Linked DNA regions of Homo sapiens: region 1 is linked to region 2. Evidence: fine-mapped expression QTL. Tissue or cell type: cerebral cortex. Region 2 holds a variant in brackets; the other region holds the start of a gene. All regions are shown on one strand. Distances are from middle to middle.

Region 1 (8,101 bases), 410 kb before region 2:
TTGCCCAAGCTGGAGTGCAGTGGTATGATCTTGGCTCATGGACGCCTCTACCTCCCAGGCTCAAGTGATCCTCCCACCTCAGCCTCCCGAGTAGCTGGGACAACAGGCATGTAACCTGCCTATTTTTTGTTTTGTTTTGTTTTGTTTTTTTGAGACAGGGTCTTGCTATATTGCCCGGGCTTGTCTCAAACTTCTGGGCTCAAGCGATCCTCCCACCTTGACCTCCCAAAGCTCTGGGATTACAGGTGTGAGCCACCACGCACTGCCCATGCACATATTAATATATACATAGGCCATCCCTGGAAGGTCATACAAGACACTGGTTTAAAAAAAAAAAAAGGTTGCTTTGGGGAGGGAAAAGGAGGTCTGGAATGGAGGGAGACTCTTCTTTTAGTTGGGTAACTGTAAATCACATTATTTAGCTACTGGTTTTACTTCTAGTGGGAGATTGGCACCTGCAGAAAATGCAGGTGTCTATTCAAATGTACCTTCCTTCCAGAAGCCTTTCGTGAGCACACTAGGTATTCCCAGATTGCCCTCCCGGCAGTTATACCAGCCTTCACCTCCCTGAAAAGCACGTGCCCCCTGCACCCCGCGACGATTGCAGGGAGGCGCCTTGGCCAGCAGAGGGCGCCAGAGGACCGCGCCCCAGGCCTGGGGCGGGACCCCCTCGTGCGGGGAGCTGGGGAGGGCCTGGCCCTGCCGGGTCCCAGGCCACCTGGGCCGCAGATGTCGCCCATTTCCGGGAGGACCTGACCCCACAGTATCAAAAGTGTCACCTCACCTTCCCCTGCAAAGGGAGCTGGGTCTGCGGCCGAGAGGCCTGGCCCGAAGCCTCCTCTCACCTCGTGGTCTCCGCCGCCTGCAGGAGGGAGTGGAGCGAGGGCGGGCCTGGAGGGGGTGGCGGGGACAATTCGATCCGATCTGAGCAAGGCCCCTCCCCTCTGCGTTGCCTCCCACCCCCATGCCCCGCGCAGGTGCCTGACCACTGAAGGAAAGTGGAAAGCGGGAGGCCCAGGCAGTGGCTGCCTGCAAGTACTTGATTGAGCCCCCATTATGTGCTTTGAAGAAAACAGAATAAGACAATGAGAGAGAAAGGTGGGCTGGGCGCGGTGGCTCACTCCTGTAATCCCACCAAGTTGGGAGGCTAAAGTGGGAGGATCAATTGAGCCGCAGAGTTTGAGACCAGCCTGGGCAACATAGTGGGACCCCATTTCTACAAAAAATAAATTAGCCAGGCATGGTAGCGCGTCTCAGTGAAAAAAGGGGGAAAAAAAGAAAAAAGAAGGTGGGTGCTGGGGCAAGGGTGGGTCCTACTTTGGCTAGGGTGATCAGGGAAGGCTCCCCTGAGGAAGTGACTTACATTTTTTGTGTTAAATATATTATTCATACCTAAAAGTGTTTAAATTGTCTCTGTACACTACCATGTCATGAAGATACGGTAAAATAAATAGTCCATGTACAGTAGAAAGACTAACAATAAAGATCCCTCCCTGCCTAGGAAACAGATCATTACCAAAATTCTAGAAGCTTCATGTGCAGCCTGTTCTTGCCTCCCCTCCTCACCAGCCACTCTTCAGAATTTTGTATCAAACATCTCCTTGCAGCCGGCATAGTGGCTCACCCCTGTAATCCCAGCACTTTGGCAGGCTGAGCTCAGGAGTTCCAGGCGGCAGTGAGCCGTGATTGTGCCACTGCACTCCAGCCTGGGTGACAGAGCAAGACCCCGTCTCAAAAACAAAACAAAAAACCACTTCCTTGCTTTTCTTTCTAATTCTACAACCCCCACATACATCCCTAAATAATATAGGGTTTCATTTGCCTGCTTCAGAACCTCGTATAAATCCAAATAACTATGCATTTGTTTGTGACCTCTGCTCGACATTGTGTTTTTGAGATTCATCCCTGTTGCTGCATGGAGTTGTAGTTCATTTTTATTGCTGTATAGTATTCTATTACAGGATTGCACCAGGGTTCATTAATCCAGTCTACTGTTTATAAACATTTGTGTTGTATCCAGTTTTGTTTTAGTTTTTGCTTTTTTTGCTATTAGGAACGAGGGTACAATGAATATCCTTTTTTGTTTTTTCGGGGTTTGGGCTGGACAACAGTTCTTTACTTTGCTTGGTTGCTCATTATAATCCCCAGGGGAGTTTTTTAAAATGCTGATGCCAGAGGCCCCACCCAGACTAATTAAATCAAGATGTGGGTGGGGGTGGGGTGGGCCGAGGCTTAGGTGTTTTAATCCTTCCCTGTGGGGATCTAATGTGCTGCCAGAGCTGAGAACCCCTGGGATGCAGTTGGTTTGAGGACAGACTTGTCAGCTGCAGCCCCTGGGATGCAGTTGGCTTGAGGACAGACAGGGAGAGGAGTCACCTGTTGCTAGCTGATGCCAAACTTTTCCAAAGTGACTATGCCCACCGACCCTCTCGCCAGCTCTCACCTCCTCATCAACTCTTGATAGTGACCAAATTTTTCCTTGTTGTCCTTCTGATGGGCGTGAAATGGCAGCTCACTGTGGCTTGAATTTGCCATTTCTCTCTTCACTAAACGAGGCTGAGCAGTTAGTGAAGTTGCTGCTGAAACAAAGAATGAAAGGAAGCCAGCGTGAAGATCTAGGAGCAAGAGACGTAGGGGAGAGGAGGAAGAGCAGCAGGTGCCAAGGTGGGAAAGGTCTGGGATGTTGGAGGAACAGAAGGAAGGCTGGGGGTGGGATCCTTGTGCATGGGGGAGGGAGAGAGGCTCAAGCCAATGTCAGCTGGGGTCAGAGCAGCGGGGCCGAGTTGGCTGAGGAGAGGACTTTGGCTTTTACTCTGAGACAGGCGCATGGGAGGGTTTGAGCAGAGGAGGGGGTGATCTGGCCTCACTTTGGCTTCAAGCAAAGGATCCTGATTGGAGCTAAATTGACACGGGACGGGGAGTATTCCGCTTAATGACTGCTTACTGCCTCTGTCCCCCACCCTACTGCCCGCTCTCCAGCTAGAACCAGGGGAGGACGATTTTGTTCACGGCTGTCACACCCGGCACCAAGTGACTAAACAGACAGTAGTTCTGCCCTTCAGGTTGGTGGTGGTGGTGGTGTGGGGTGCTTATAGGTTTTTATAGTCTTCCTTCACAGGTGGAAACAAGAACGGTGAGACCTGTGAGGTTTATTTCAGAGCCACCCCCGGGCCTGGTACGCCTCCCAGGGAAGCTGGGGTGGGGGTGCAGCTGCCCCTCACTTGGGCCCACCCCACATGCATTCAGTCAGGGCCCCTATGGAGCCGTGTTACAGCCTTTAGACACAGGATCGAGGATCTTCACGGGGTGAGGAGACACGCCCGGCCCATGCCTTCTTTCTCCCGCCAGCCTACAGGGATCTTTTTCAACGAAACTCTAACCAGGTCCCTCCTCAGCTGAAAATCCTTCGGTGGCTCCCCAGTGCCCTTGAGGCAAAGTCCAAACTCCTACGAGGCCCTGGGGCCCAGCACATCTGACCCCTCCGGGCATGCCCATCCCACCCCATCCCTGGAAGCTGCTCTCTAGGAGTTACTCTGAAGCAGTTGCCACTTCTTCCCTCGGGCCTTTTCCCTTGATAATTCTTCACTTCCTCTGGGAAGTCACCCCGACCCCCTGTCAGGTGACCCGCCTCTTAACGGTCGCCGCGTCCCGTCTCTCCCCCACCAAAGCACACTTCCCTTTGCATTGTAATTATCTGTTTACTTCGTCTGTCTCCCTCACTGGACCAGAAGCTACCCTTCGGGAGAGGCTCTGAGTGTTCTGTCCGGGGCTGTGCCCTGGCCCCAGGTACAGTGCCCCACACGTGCTGGGCGCTCCGTAAACACTGGATAAGGGAAGGAACGGGTGCTCTTGGCTAGCTGGGCCAGGCTGCTTTGCAAAAAGGCCGTGGCATTTCAAGCCGCCGAGAGCCACGTGCGGTGTCCCTTTCCTCGCTTCCTCCCCAGTGATGTGCGTTTCCCTCGTCAATGCCACGCTCTCCAGGCGCCAGCCGGGCGGAGGAAATTTCCGCCCCCTCCCAAGCCCGAGGCGGGGGCGGGCGTCGGAAGGTCAGGTGTCCCGGCCGGCGCGCAGCGCCAGGGGGCGTCAGAAGCGCTCAGACCACCGGGCGCTGAGCCGGTGGGCGCGCGGCGTCCTGCCGGGGTCCCACCTCGCAGAGGCCTCGCTTCGCTCGACGTCCCGCCCCGGACAGCCCCAGCACCGGGGACGACCCGCGCTGCGCCAGCGAACCCCGCCTCGGAGGAGTCCCCGCCCGGGCTCTCACCGCCACGCGGCGCGAGCCCGGCCAGCAGCCGGCGCACCTGCTCGGGGAGTGGCCTTCGGCGGAGACGAGCCTCCGATTGGCGCGGAGGTGACAAAGGGGCGTGGCAGATAAGGCCCCGCCCCTCCCACCCCCCACCACCCCCCCGGAGTACTTAAGGGAGTTGGCGGCGCTGCTGCATTCATTGCGCCGCGGCACGGCCTAGCGAGTGGTTCTTCTGCGCTACTGCTGCGCGAATCGGCGACCCCAGTGCCTCGACCACTATGCCGCGCTCTTTCCTCGTCAGGAAGCCCTCCGACCCCAATCGGAAGCCTAACTACAGCGAGCTGCAGGACTCTAATCCAGGTGCGTTGGAGGGGTTCTGGGCTCCAGGAGGTTTGGGGGAGACAGGCGAAGGCTGCGTGGGGGGCACCTGAGGGAGGCGGCCTGCCTGAGCCAGGATCGAGTCACAGGATGTTTTGTGGACCATTGCGGGCTCGGGAGACCGGGCAAGTGGGTCCCCAGTTCCGGGGATCTGTCTGGGTGGTTGGGGGAGTGCCGTGTAGAGGGCAGGGGTCTTCAGCTTGGGGGGCCTTTGTAGCCGGCGAGAGGCGGAGGAGCTCCGCAAGAGGGGAAGGAGAGGAGGCCTGTGTCAGGAGGGCCCTCTGGACGCTGCTGGGGAGAGTCCGGAGTCCAGAGGGTTGAGGGGAGGGGTGGGGAGACGAGATGTGTGTGAGGAGGGGGATTGGGGCAGGGTGGTGGCTCCGGGGCTGGGATGATGGGGTTCTGGCCTCAGGCTGGAGACTGGGGACTTAGGAGAGGGAGATCAGGAAATGACCTCCTTCAACTGGGGGTCCTACGTGTGAGAGACTCAGATTGGGTGACCTGGGCGAGGAGGGCAGGAACCTGGTCTGTCCTGTGGATAATTTTTTTGATCTAATTATGTATTGAGAATCGGCCCCACCCAGCCCCTGGCCAGCGGTGGGCTCATGTTTGTTGATTGAGTGAATGATTTAATTAACGCCTGACTCTGCTTTTTCTCCCTCAGAGTTTACCTTCCAGCAGCCCTACGACCAGGCCCACCTGCTGGCAGCCATCCCACCTCCGGAGATCCTCAACCCCACCGCCTCGCTGCCAATGCTCATCTGGGACTCTGTCCTGGCGCCCCAAGCCCAGCCAATTGCCTGGGCCTCCCTTCGGCTCCAGGAGAGTCCCAGGGTGGCAGAGCTGACCTCCCTGTCAGATGAGGACAGTGGGAAAGGCTCCCAGCCCCCCAGCCCACCCTCACCGGCTCCTTCGTCCTTCTCCTCTACTTCAGTCTCTTCCTTGGAGGCCGAGGCCTATGCTGCCTTCCCAGGCTTGGGCCAAGTGCCCAAGCAGCTGGCCCAGCTCTCTGAGGCCAAGGATCTCCAGGCTCGAAAGGCCTTCAACTGCAAATACTGCAACAAGGAATACCTCAGCCTGGGTGCCCTCAAGATGCACATCCGAAGCCACACGCTGCCCTGCGTCTGCGGAACCTGCGGGAAGGCCTTCTCTAGGCCCTGGCTGCTACAAGGCCATGTCCGGACCCACACTGGTACGTGCCCCTCCAGGCGCCCCCACCGTTGCTCTCTCTGGCAGCTTTTGTGAATCTGGGCTTGCTGTTCTCATTCCCAAAGCTGTGGACACTGAGGCCCCGAGTCTTCTAACTTCTAGCTCAAGTTCCAGGGCCTGGCTCTCTGGAAACGTTTGGCAGAAACTTTCTTCATCAGCTAAGCAGATGGGCAAAGCAGACACCTTCCCAATCCCCTGCAGCCTGTTTCTCAGCCAAATGGGTCGGAGCTGGATATGGGAAAGGTGCAACCAACACCTTGCTGTGGGGGCCAGGTGTGAAGGGGCCCACCCGGCCACACCCTCTCCCGGGTCCGCCCCCTCCCTAGCCAGACAGGATGTTGTCAGACCCCCCGCCTGGCTCTGAATCCTTCTTTGAGAACTTTCTCAAAACTTAGGCTGATGTTTCTCTTCTGTGAGCCTCATTTTCTCTATCTTTCAGATGGGCATGAGAACAGCTTTTGGGGTTTCTATACAGGCTAAATGCAGGAATGCATATGGGAAGCACCTGGCAAAGTGCCGGTACCTGCTAAACTCTCACAAAAATGGTTCCTTGGCATTTGCTCTGCTTCCTTGCTGTGTGACTTTGGGCAAGCAACTTAACCTCTCTGAGCCTTAGGGGAAAACTATGATAGCATATGTTTTAGAGAGTGGCTGTAAAGGTGGCTAATCACTTTATAGTAATTTATTATACCCGAACGGTTCTCAGGTCGGCTTCCCCACCCCCACTGAATCCTAGCACACAGACCAGGAAACGGCATCTTTGGGGCAGAAAACACAATCACGTCTTTTGAAAATTTACTAAATGTGTAAAAAACTTTCTGGACATGGAGAAAAGGTAGAACTTTTTAGAACTTGAATGGTGGCAGCCACTGTGCCTGGAGCTGCTCTTTGGAGAGTGACAGTTGAGGGAGAAGATTCCACAGGGTTCAAGCTGGCCAGGTTCTGCCATTTCCTGGCCTGGCGCCTGACCTCTGAGCGGTGAGGGTTAGTGAGGTGTCTGGGAGGACTGGCAATTCGCGGGCTTTATTGGCATCTTATTCGACTAAGGCTACCCATTTCTCTTCCTTCGTGCACCAATTGCTCTGATTTTAACATGTAAAGGTCCAACTGCCTGGCCTCCTGGGTGCCTGCCCAGCTCACAGGGCTCTATTTTGGGACAGTTGAACCCCTCAGGGTGCTGCAGTCCTGCCTGCCTCTCTCACCTCCCATCTGGACATTATTTTAATGTAAAGGCATGGCTGAGACACAGAAATCCCCTTGAAATGTATCATTGCGGTCCTCATTGACTCCCATTGTGTGCCTTAATGGTGGGCCCAGTGGGTGGGGGCTGGGAGGGGTGGAGCAGGTGCATGGGGCAGCGGTGCCCAGCACCTGTTCCAGTCACAGCTGCTGGCCCACTGCATGGCAGGCCCCTTTAATCCGGGGATATCGCATGTACAGTGCCCCCCTCGGCGCCCTTTGTCCCCGCCGGCCTGGTGCCGATTTCACACTTGCCAGGAGTACCATGAAGGCGTCTGGGGGGCGAGGGATCCAAGGAGTGGGGGTCTGTGCCTCCTGCGTGTGCACACAGCCCCCGCCCCCAGCCCATCATGTCCTAGAATGTCTCCTTCCCCTTTTGTTTGGGTTCAGGTCTCATCACACTTTGGGCACTTACTGTACAGGAGGGTAGTGCTCAGGACTTCACCAACAGCCCTGGGAAGGGAAGGGAGGTGCTGTCCTAACTCTGGTCTTACAAATGGACTCCAGCCCCTTTTCCAGATCTCCAGAGTCAGCCCTTAGTTCACAAGGGTGAACTTACCCTTCTCATTCACATGAAGACTTAGAATGCAATCAACAAACCCTTCAGGCGTGGCGTGTGGAGGCTGCTGAGTAATGGCAGAGTGGAGTAGTGCTCAGGCACCCCTCCCCCAATCCTCTATGTCCCCCACCCTTTGGAGTGGCGAGTTTCCATTTCTGCCCCATGAGACTGAGTCCAGCTCTCAGGCGCTCCATAAGTCCCTATTGAATGCATGGGTCCCATTGGAGCCATCCTCTGGACTCTCTCCTACCCTGGTAGCTCAGTGTGGCACCCTAGGCACCCAGGAGGTGATGGAATGAATTCACTCTCAGCTCTTAAATTCCATCCAGCGCTGGGATTTCACAGGCGGGCCCTGACCTTGCGGGCATATCAGACTGGGCGTGAGGGGATTGGAGAATTGCATGTTTTTTAAAAAGACTATTCAGTATTATGGAATAGTGTCTAGCACTTAGTAGGAGCTCAGTAGATTAAAA
Region 2 (8,101 bases):
AGGCCCAACGGCAAGAGAGAAAATAATAAATATCTAACATGTCAGGTAGTGACGAACAGATATGAAGACAAATAAGGCAAGGCGAGGGGAGACTTATTTGAGAAGGGTCACTATTTCAGGAGGGAATTCAGGGTCAGCCTCTCTGCTAAGAAGGGATTGCAATGAAGTAAGGGGGTGGCAAGTGCAAAGGCACTGGGGTAGAAAGGGGCTTGGTGGCCGCCTGTGCAATGAGTGTGAGAGGTGGAAGAGGCTACAATATGGGCGTGGCTTCCTCCCTGAGTGAAGTAGGGAGCCATGGGAGGGTTTTGAGCAGAGGAGGGCCCTGCCCTGACTTTGATTTTTACAGAATCCCTCTGGCTACTTGTGGATAACAGTCTTCATGGGGGCCAGGAAGCGGAGAAGTCTGCTGCAGGAAGCGAGGTTTTGCAGGCCTCATGACACTTAGATCACAGAGAGGATTCAGGGGTTTGAGTGACATTCTCAAAAGACACAGGAAAACCAAACAGGATTTTCGGGTTAACCAGAAGCTGCCAGAAGATGGACGGTGCCCAGCATGCCCTGCCCCCAGGCACCCTGGTCCATGGGCCTTTTGTGCAGCATCCTCGGCGGGTGTGGACGCTGTGGTGCTGGTGTTGCTGGTGGGTTTTCCCCTGTGCCTGCCTCTTGGCTGTTGAGGACAGTGCTGGGGAGGATGTGAGCACTTAGCACCCCAGCGTGGTCCGGGCGATGGTGGCCCAGCTCCCGCCAAAGACGCTGACTTCTTTGAACCCGAGAACAAACATTGACGTTCTTAGTTCTGCAAAAAAAAAAAAAAAAAAGCCCTGCGTCCATGCACGCTGTATCCCCCCATCACCAAACTCACTTATCTCGCTGCACAATCCTTCAAAGCACAACACAATGTATTTATGTCTGTGGTTTAGGTTCCCAAAACCTGTGACATCAGATAAGTACGATGTTCACAAAAACAAACATCGCAGAAAGGGAAAAAAACGACCAAAAAGAAGCAGCTGGTTTCAGCCTCGACTTCCTCTCCCAAGAAAAAGGGGCTCTATCTGGCTGAGGTTTCACTGTATTCAGGCTGGGGGGTCAGAGGAATGCCGTCCTGCCCTCTGTCCAACTGCTCGCATCTCAGCCTTTGATGTGTGACTCTCTGAGGCTGAAAAATCTCACCTGCAAAATGGAAATGCCAATCTCCACCTCTTGGGACTCATAAAAATAATAATAAAATGATAATAAAAATATACCAATAATTGCTCATCTTTGGATCAATTGTGTTCCATAGGTCATTTCCTTAGCAAATCCTCACATCGGCCTGTGTTTTGCCTTCACGTGGGGTGGCTACTGAGAACATCTCCAGTTGACACATGGGGAAACTGAGGCTTCAAGTAGGAAAAATAGGCAGTTATAAAACACTGCATGGCTACTTTTGGTTTTTAGAAAATGCAAACATGTAATATATAAATTAAATAAATAAATAACAAAATATAAAAATATAATTAGGCAAAAAAGTTTGGCCGGTTAAATGCCCAAAAGCCACAGTGCTTTCCTGAGTATCAGAGTGACCATTGAGACAGGAGTCCCACCGCTGTCTCCTTCTCGTCATTCCCGTCTCGGCAAAATGTCACCTCTGCTGAGAGGTCGTCCCCAAGCTCTTGCCTAAGGTGGCCCTCCGGTCCCTCTTATTCCACTCACCTTATCTCTTTCTGCCCTGACCGTCGCTGGAATGCGCCGTATTTTTTCATCTGTTTCTGGGCTTATCGCCTGTGTTCCCCGCTAGAGCTTCAGACCCAGGAAAGCAGGAACTTCACCCCGTCCCCAGAGCCTTGCCCAGTGCCTGGCACTAGTGGATCTCAATACATATTCCTGGACCAACGGAAGGTGTTTTCTTATTTTTAAAAAATGTACTTTGCACACTGGGCAAGGTGGCTCACACCTGTAATCCCAGCACTTTGGGTGGATGAGGCGGGAGGATCGCTTGAGTCTAGGAGTTCAACACCCATCTGGGCAACATAGTGAGACCCTATCTCTATAAAAAAAAAAAAATTAAAGTATTAGCAGGGCGTGGTGATACCTGCCTGTAGTTCCAGCTACTCCGGAGGCTGAAGTGGGAGGACTGCTTGAACCCAAGAGGTCGAGGCTGCAGTGAGCCGTAATCATGCCACTGCACTCCAGCCTTGGTGACAGCTAGACCTTGTCTCAAAAATAAAAATACAAAGTGAAAAAATTGCTTTGCTTTTTCAAAAGCAAAGCACACCATATGAGTTGTTTTTAATTGTTGTTTTAAGTGCTGGTCAAAAATGAGCTGGCAGGAGCCTCAGCAGGAAGGCACAGCCTCGGCGGGCTTATCTGGCTGAGTGTGAAGGAAGTGGGCACACTGGCTTCCCACAGAGTGGGTCAAGCAGCGAACATCCCAGAGTTTCCCAGCCCAGTCTGCCCCCAGTTCTCTGGCGCTGGAGATCTTCCCGCCTGGGACAGGGTTATCTTTGAATGACAGCGTGTTCAGTCTCCCCCATGGGGTGAGGCTGCCCTGAATCTCAGGGAGCAACAGGGATCCCCTGGGCCAAACACAGCCCCCAGGAGATGTTGCTTGGCCCATGCAGTTCAAACAGCTTGGAATTTTGGCATTATTTTAAAAATCAAGATATTTTGGAAGAAAACTTTGAAAATCCTCCCAAAGGGCACCAAATAAGATGAGAATAATTGGATGGGAAGATTTCACATCCTTAAGATGACCATTCTGCCAACATACATAAAACTTAATGCAATTTAAAGTAGCGACCCACAAGGTTTTTTTAGTTGGATAAAACAATCTTTGAGTTCACAAAGAAAAAAGTACAAAATGAAAGAACAATGAGAAGGATCAGGACAAAGATAATATTTCAACTCACTGGGAAAATGGAATATTTAATCCAGGACCCCAGCCGAGCCCACTATCAGCAAAAAACAAAAATGGACTCCCATCTTCTACTACAAATCCAGGGAGTTCACATAAAACACCTGGCTTGTCCAAAAGTCCCGACCACACTGGGCCCTTATTTTTGCAAGGCAGCAATGGATTGATGCTGAGTTGCATCTCGGGGACTCTCCACTTCACCACAGTCTCCACCATTCCCTACTGCATCCCACCTGACTGCCTTCAATCATCTGTGTGTCTTGCTTGGGTGTTCGTAGCCTCTGAACTCACTACACAACAGAAGGACTCAGGGAACCTTTGAAGTTGGATTTCTGCTGTTAGCCACCTTTGTACTGTTCTCATTTTGCATAGTGGAAATGTGTATTTAGAGGAGGGATGTGGCTTCAGGCATGATTAAGAGCATGATTAAGTTGGTCCACCTGGGCCGGGCGCGGTGGCTCAGGCCTGCAATTCCAATGCTTTGGAAGGCTAAGGTGGGAGGAATGCCTGAGGCCAGGAGTTCAAGACCAGCCTGGGTGACAGAGCGAGACCCTGCCTCTAAAAAAGAAAAAAGAAAGAAAGAAAAAGAGCATGGAGCTAGAAGCTAGAGAGGCTTGAGCAACCTGTGAAGAGCGACTTCCCCGCTCAGTGCCTCAGTTTCCTCCTCTGCCACATGGGGATAATAAGAGCTGTCACACATCATGTTAGTTGCAGAGATTTGTGCCATTCTGCAAAATTCTTAGCCCGGGGCCCAGTGCAGTGTCGGTGCCAGGGAAACAGTGGTGATGACAAAACCCTCCCTTTACATCTACGGCTTTTAGTTCTCAGGCTTCTAAGGGAGGAAAGAAAAAGGAAGAAACGAAGGGAGGAGGGGTGCAGAGCGGAGCATTTGCTTTTACCTTTGATCTCCTTTTGCCAAAAAGGAGGGGAGAAAGTAAATAAACAGGCCTGGCCTCCTTTGATTCCAGCGCCTGCCCGGCACAGAGCTCCAGAGCTGATAAGAACCAGCCAAGTTCTAACTGGGCAACTCCACCCTCCTGACCAGGCCTTCCCTTGGCATTTGGAATCCAGGACGCCAAAGCCCTCCCCTGCACCCTACTGTCAGCATGCACCGTTAATGCCCTTCTCGCCTTCCCAACCATGGGAGAAAAGATGGAGAGAACTTCCCCACTGTGGAACCCCACACAAAACAATTGGGCGGGTTTGGAGACAAGAAAAGGGTCTTAGAAAGCGGCTTCCGAATACATTAGAAACCCAGTCCCCCATCCCAGGAAGAAGCCCCCACACTGGGGACTTGCAGGAAAACAAAATGCTCAGGGATTTGTCTTGGCAATGAATTAAGCAGAAGGCTGGTGAAGTTCTCGGCGCAGAGCAGAACCACCCCTCCCACCCCCCAGTGGTTGGTGGAGAGAAGCCGTGTGGCACGGTGGGTAATGGTATAGCTTTGAACCCATTCGTTTATGGTTGTGTGACTTTGGGCAAGTGACTCGGCCCTGTCGAACTTCAGTTTCTCATCAGCCCTGGCACTGGGCTCATGGGATTGTTAAAGGTTAACTGAGGTTGTGCCCATCGGGTGCCTGGCGCATACATAGCAGGTGCTTGTGCTTGGACACTGTGATTATAAAATGGCTTAGGGAGTCCCAGGATGGCCTCAGGAGGAGAGACAAAAAAAAAAAAATGCTCAGGCCTCATGTCCGGAAAGATGAAAGAGGATCAGTTTGAAATCTCTAAAGGCACCAAGGGCCATGCAGTGGCCAAGGTCAGGCACCGG[G/A]TCTGCTTGAAGTTGACAGGAGGTAAATTCAGGACAAAGTTTAGCATACACAGAAGACATTCCTTCCACATTCCCCCCAGGTAGGCCCTAGCTGATGGCTCTAAGAGCTTCCCCAGGACCTCTGCTAAATAGCTCAGAGCTAAGGCAGAGGGCCTGGGAGAAGAGGCAGAGGTGAGGGGTCCCTCCCACCCCTGCCTCCTCCTGGCTGTGTGACCTGTGTGCCTGGCCTCAGTTTCTCCACCTGTAAAATGAGGCCATAATAACACCAACCCTGTAGGTTTTGAGGATAGAACACATGGCATTCTGCTGGTGCTCAATGAATGAACAAAAGTCACAAACCACAGCTACTTCCAGGATGAGGCTGTGGAAGCGGTTGTCAGCAGGGAAAGAACTGACTGCTCTTGACTCCTTTCTTAGGAAGTCCAGGCTCAATTCCACATCCACGCCCCGTCCACCTACCCTGGAGGCAGGGCCTCGCTCTGCTTCGCACATTCGCAAGTCCCCAGGGCCTGGCATAGAGCAAGTATTTGTTCAATGAATGCATGAGCCTGGATACTCTGTGGAGTCAACCTCCACTGAGAGCAAAGGGAGGCCCAGAGAGGCCAGGTAACTTGCCCGAGGCCTCACAGCCCCCTGCCTGCCTGAAGGCAGAGCTGGAACTGGGGCTGAGCTGAGCCTGGTCTGCACCCCTACTTGCTCTGGGCCTTCCCCTCGGGGAAGCCTGCTGTCCCCCACCTGAACACACCCTGCCCAGGCTTCCCCCACCCAGCAGAGCAGGCACAAGGAGCTCCTCAGGTGGAAGGAGCTCCTCCTTCCACGAGTGTTCCAGACGCTCACTGACCTCTGCAGGGACTGGCCTTCCCCTCTCTCCCTGGTAGGCTGAAGGCCACCAGCTTGCCACCTGCAGGCCTCGTCTGGCTTCAGACGAGTTCCGTTATGACCTGCACTGTGTGGTTTTGTATAACCTGCACTGCATGGGTTTCCTTCATCATTTTGAATCATTTGCCAACATTTAAAAATTGGCGATTTCGTATAAAACCCAGAATTTCCAGCTTCTTTCGGAAAGTCGGCCTCTCTGGCCACCAGGCCTGCTTTTTTCTGGCTCTGGTCAGCAGGAGCTTCGTCCTAGGCCTCTTCACTCCCCTCGCTCTGACCTGGTGGTCCTCACTCAACCCTGGGCCTACTCTCCCAGGCTTACAGCCTCCTTACATAAAGGCCCAGGCCTGCCCGGAGACCAGGCCACTCGCTCCCCCGCCACCGTGCGGTGCCTCCTCCGTTCACCCTCAGCCCGGGCACTCCCAGGGAAAGCCAAAAAGGCAGGATTGGAGCCAAACTCTAGGTGTCCAGTAGACAGAATAATGACCCCCCAAAGGTGCCCACCTCCTAATCCCCAGAGCCTGTGAACATGTGACCTTACATGGCAAAGGGACTTTGTAGGTGTGATTCAATTCAGGGTCTTGAGATGGGAAGATGAGCCTGGCTTATCCAGTGGACCCAAGGCAGTCACCAGGGGCCTTATGAGAGGGAGGCGGGAGGGTCAGGCCCAGAGGGCCCACTTCGACTCCAGTGGGAGCAGAGGTGGGAGCGGTGCAAGCCAGTGAGTGCCATTGGCCTCAAGACAAGGCATGGATTCTCCCCTGAAGCCTCCAGAAGGAACTCCATACTGCCTGCACCTTGATTTTCCCCTCGTAAGACCCACTTTGGCTTTCTGACTTTCAGAACAGTAAGGTCATGAAAGTGTGTCATTTTCAGTTTGGTGTAATCTGTTACAGCAGCAATAGGAAACATCCCAGGGTTTGAACCCAGGCTTGGCCACTCCCTGGCTATATGCCCTGGGGCAGGTGACATAGTACTGAGCCTGGGTTTTCCCGTCTGAAAAGGGGGTGAGCAGAGACTTCTGTTAGGTGGGGGCTGTGTGTGGGGGTGAAGTCGATGGCACAGGTAAGGTGTGGGGCAGAGCCCTGACAGCTCACGCGCTAGACGCCACCATGGTTAGCATCGCCCTCTTACTTCCTCTCACTTCTCTCACTGTCACTGAAACCAACTCAGAGCAGGCTTTTGAATCTGCCCACTGCTGCCCAAGATAAAGACGAAACTTCCTACTTAGGATCCTACACAATCTGCCTTCCCTAATAATAATAACAGTAATGATTAAAACAATAATGTCCACTAGCACTGATGAAGCACTTGGCAAGAGCCAGATATTAACTACGTATTAAACTCATTTAGGCCAGGTGCAGTGGCTCACACTCATCCCAGTGCTTTAGGAGGCAAGGTGGGAGAATCGCTTGAGGCCAGGAGTTCAAGACCAGCCTGGGCAACATAGCAAGACCCCCAATCCCTACAAAAAATAAAAAATTTGCCATGTGTGGTGGCATGTACCTATAGTCCCAGCTACTCAGGAGGCAGAGATGGAAAGGATTGCTTGAGCCCTGGAGGTTGAGGCTGCAGTGAGCTGAGATATCACCACTGCACTCCAGCCTGGGTGACAGAGTGAGTGAGACCCAGACTCAAAAAAACACACACAAAAAATTATTTAGGCCAGATGCAGTGGCTCTTGCCTGTAATTCCAGCACCTTGGGAGGCTGAGGTAGAAAGATCGCCTAAGGCTAGGAGTTTGAGACCTGACTGGGCAACAGAGTGAGACCTCATCTCTCCAAAAAAATTAAAAATTAGCCAGGCATGGTGGTGTGCACCTGTAGTCCCAGCTATTCAGTGGGCTAAGGCAGGCAGATCGCTTGAGCTCAGGAGTTGGGAGGCTGCAGTGAGCTATGATCAAGCCACTGCACTCCAACCGGGGTGACAGAGTGAGACTCTGTTTCTAAAATAAATAAATAATAACTTCGAAAATTCACTTAATGCTCACGACAATCCTATCACTTGCCCTATTTTTCTGATAGGTAAACTGAGGCCCAAAAGATTAAGTCACTTGCCCAGGATCCCCTGGCAGGCTGGTAGCTAGCTGGGATTTGAACCCACGTGGTTGGGTCTTGGAGCCTGGATGCTAACCATGGGGCCGTGCTGCCTGTATATATGAGCAGACCAGGGAATAACACTCAGGGCCCCAGGGAGTGGCCAGAGACTCAGTGATCATGGCCTCCCCTCCATACACTGCCTGTCCTGGGTACAATCCTGGACCCGAGAGATCTGAGGGTCGTGGCTCCTCCTGGTACACAGTTTGTACCCACAAGTGTGTTTATTTTGCAAAACAGTTTCCAGCAGTGCCCACTCTCTGCCGGACACCTGGTTTCCAGAAAAAATGCAGACCCCTCCACTGTACTTAAGATGGTGGAGACAGGCCGGGTGTGGTGGCTCACGCCTGTAATCCCAGCACTTTGGGAGGCCGAGGCAGGCGGATCACCTGAGGTCACGAGTTCGAGATCAGCCTGGCCAACATGGCGAAACCCTGTCTCTACTAAAAATACAAAATTAGCCGG

Alleles and levels. Alleles are on the strand shown, and positions count from the first base shown. SD is a standard deviation of normalised expression in the study named.
For the expression in cerebral cortex of the gene that starts at base 4,442 in region 1, G is the high allele of the variant in region 2 and A is the other (large effect, 1.1 SD a copy in GTEx).

Evidence for each region. PIP is the estimated chance that this variant, and not a neighbour inherited with it, causes the effect.
Region 1: it holds the start of SNAI1, and the variant in region 2 is fine-mapped to the expression of SNAI1 in cerebral cortex (GTEx, PIP 0.96).

Annotation. Positions count from the first base shown.
Region 1 is chr20:49,978,539-49,986,639 of GRCh38, forward strand. It overlaps SNAI1 (snail family transcriptional repressor 1), which reads left to right and starts at 4,442. Exons shown (of 3, transcript NM_005985.4): 1 at 4,442-4,603; 2 at 5,286-5,813. The coding sequence starts at 4,522. RefSeq lists silencers at 616-675, 776-875, 3,937-4,456 and an enhancer at 2,847-3,784.
Region 2 is chr20:50,385,732-50,393,832 of GRCh38, forward strand. LOC124904928 (a long non-coding RNA gene) reads right to left here and starts at 1,939. Exons shown (of 2, transcript XR_007067641.1): 1 at 1,693-1,939; 2 at 1-796. The variant G/A (reference allele first, on the strand shown) is at 4,665.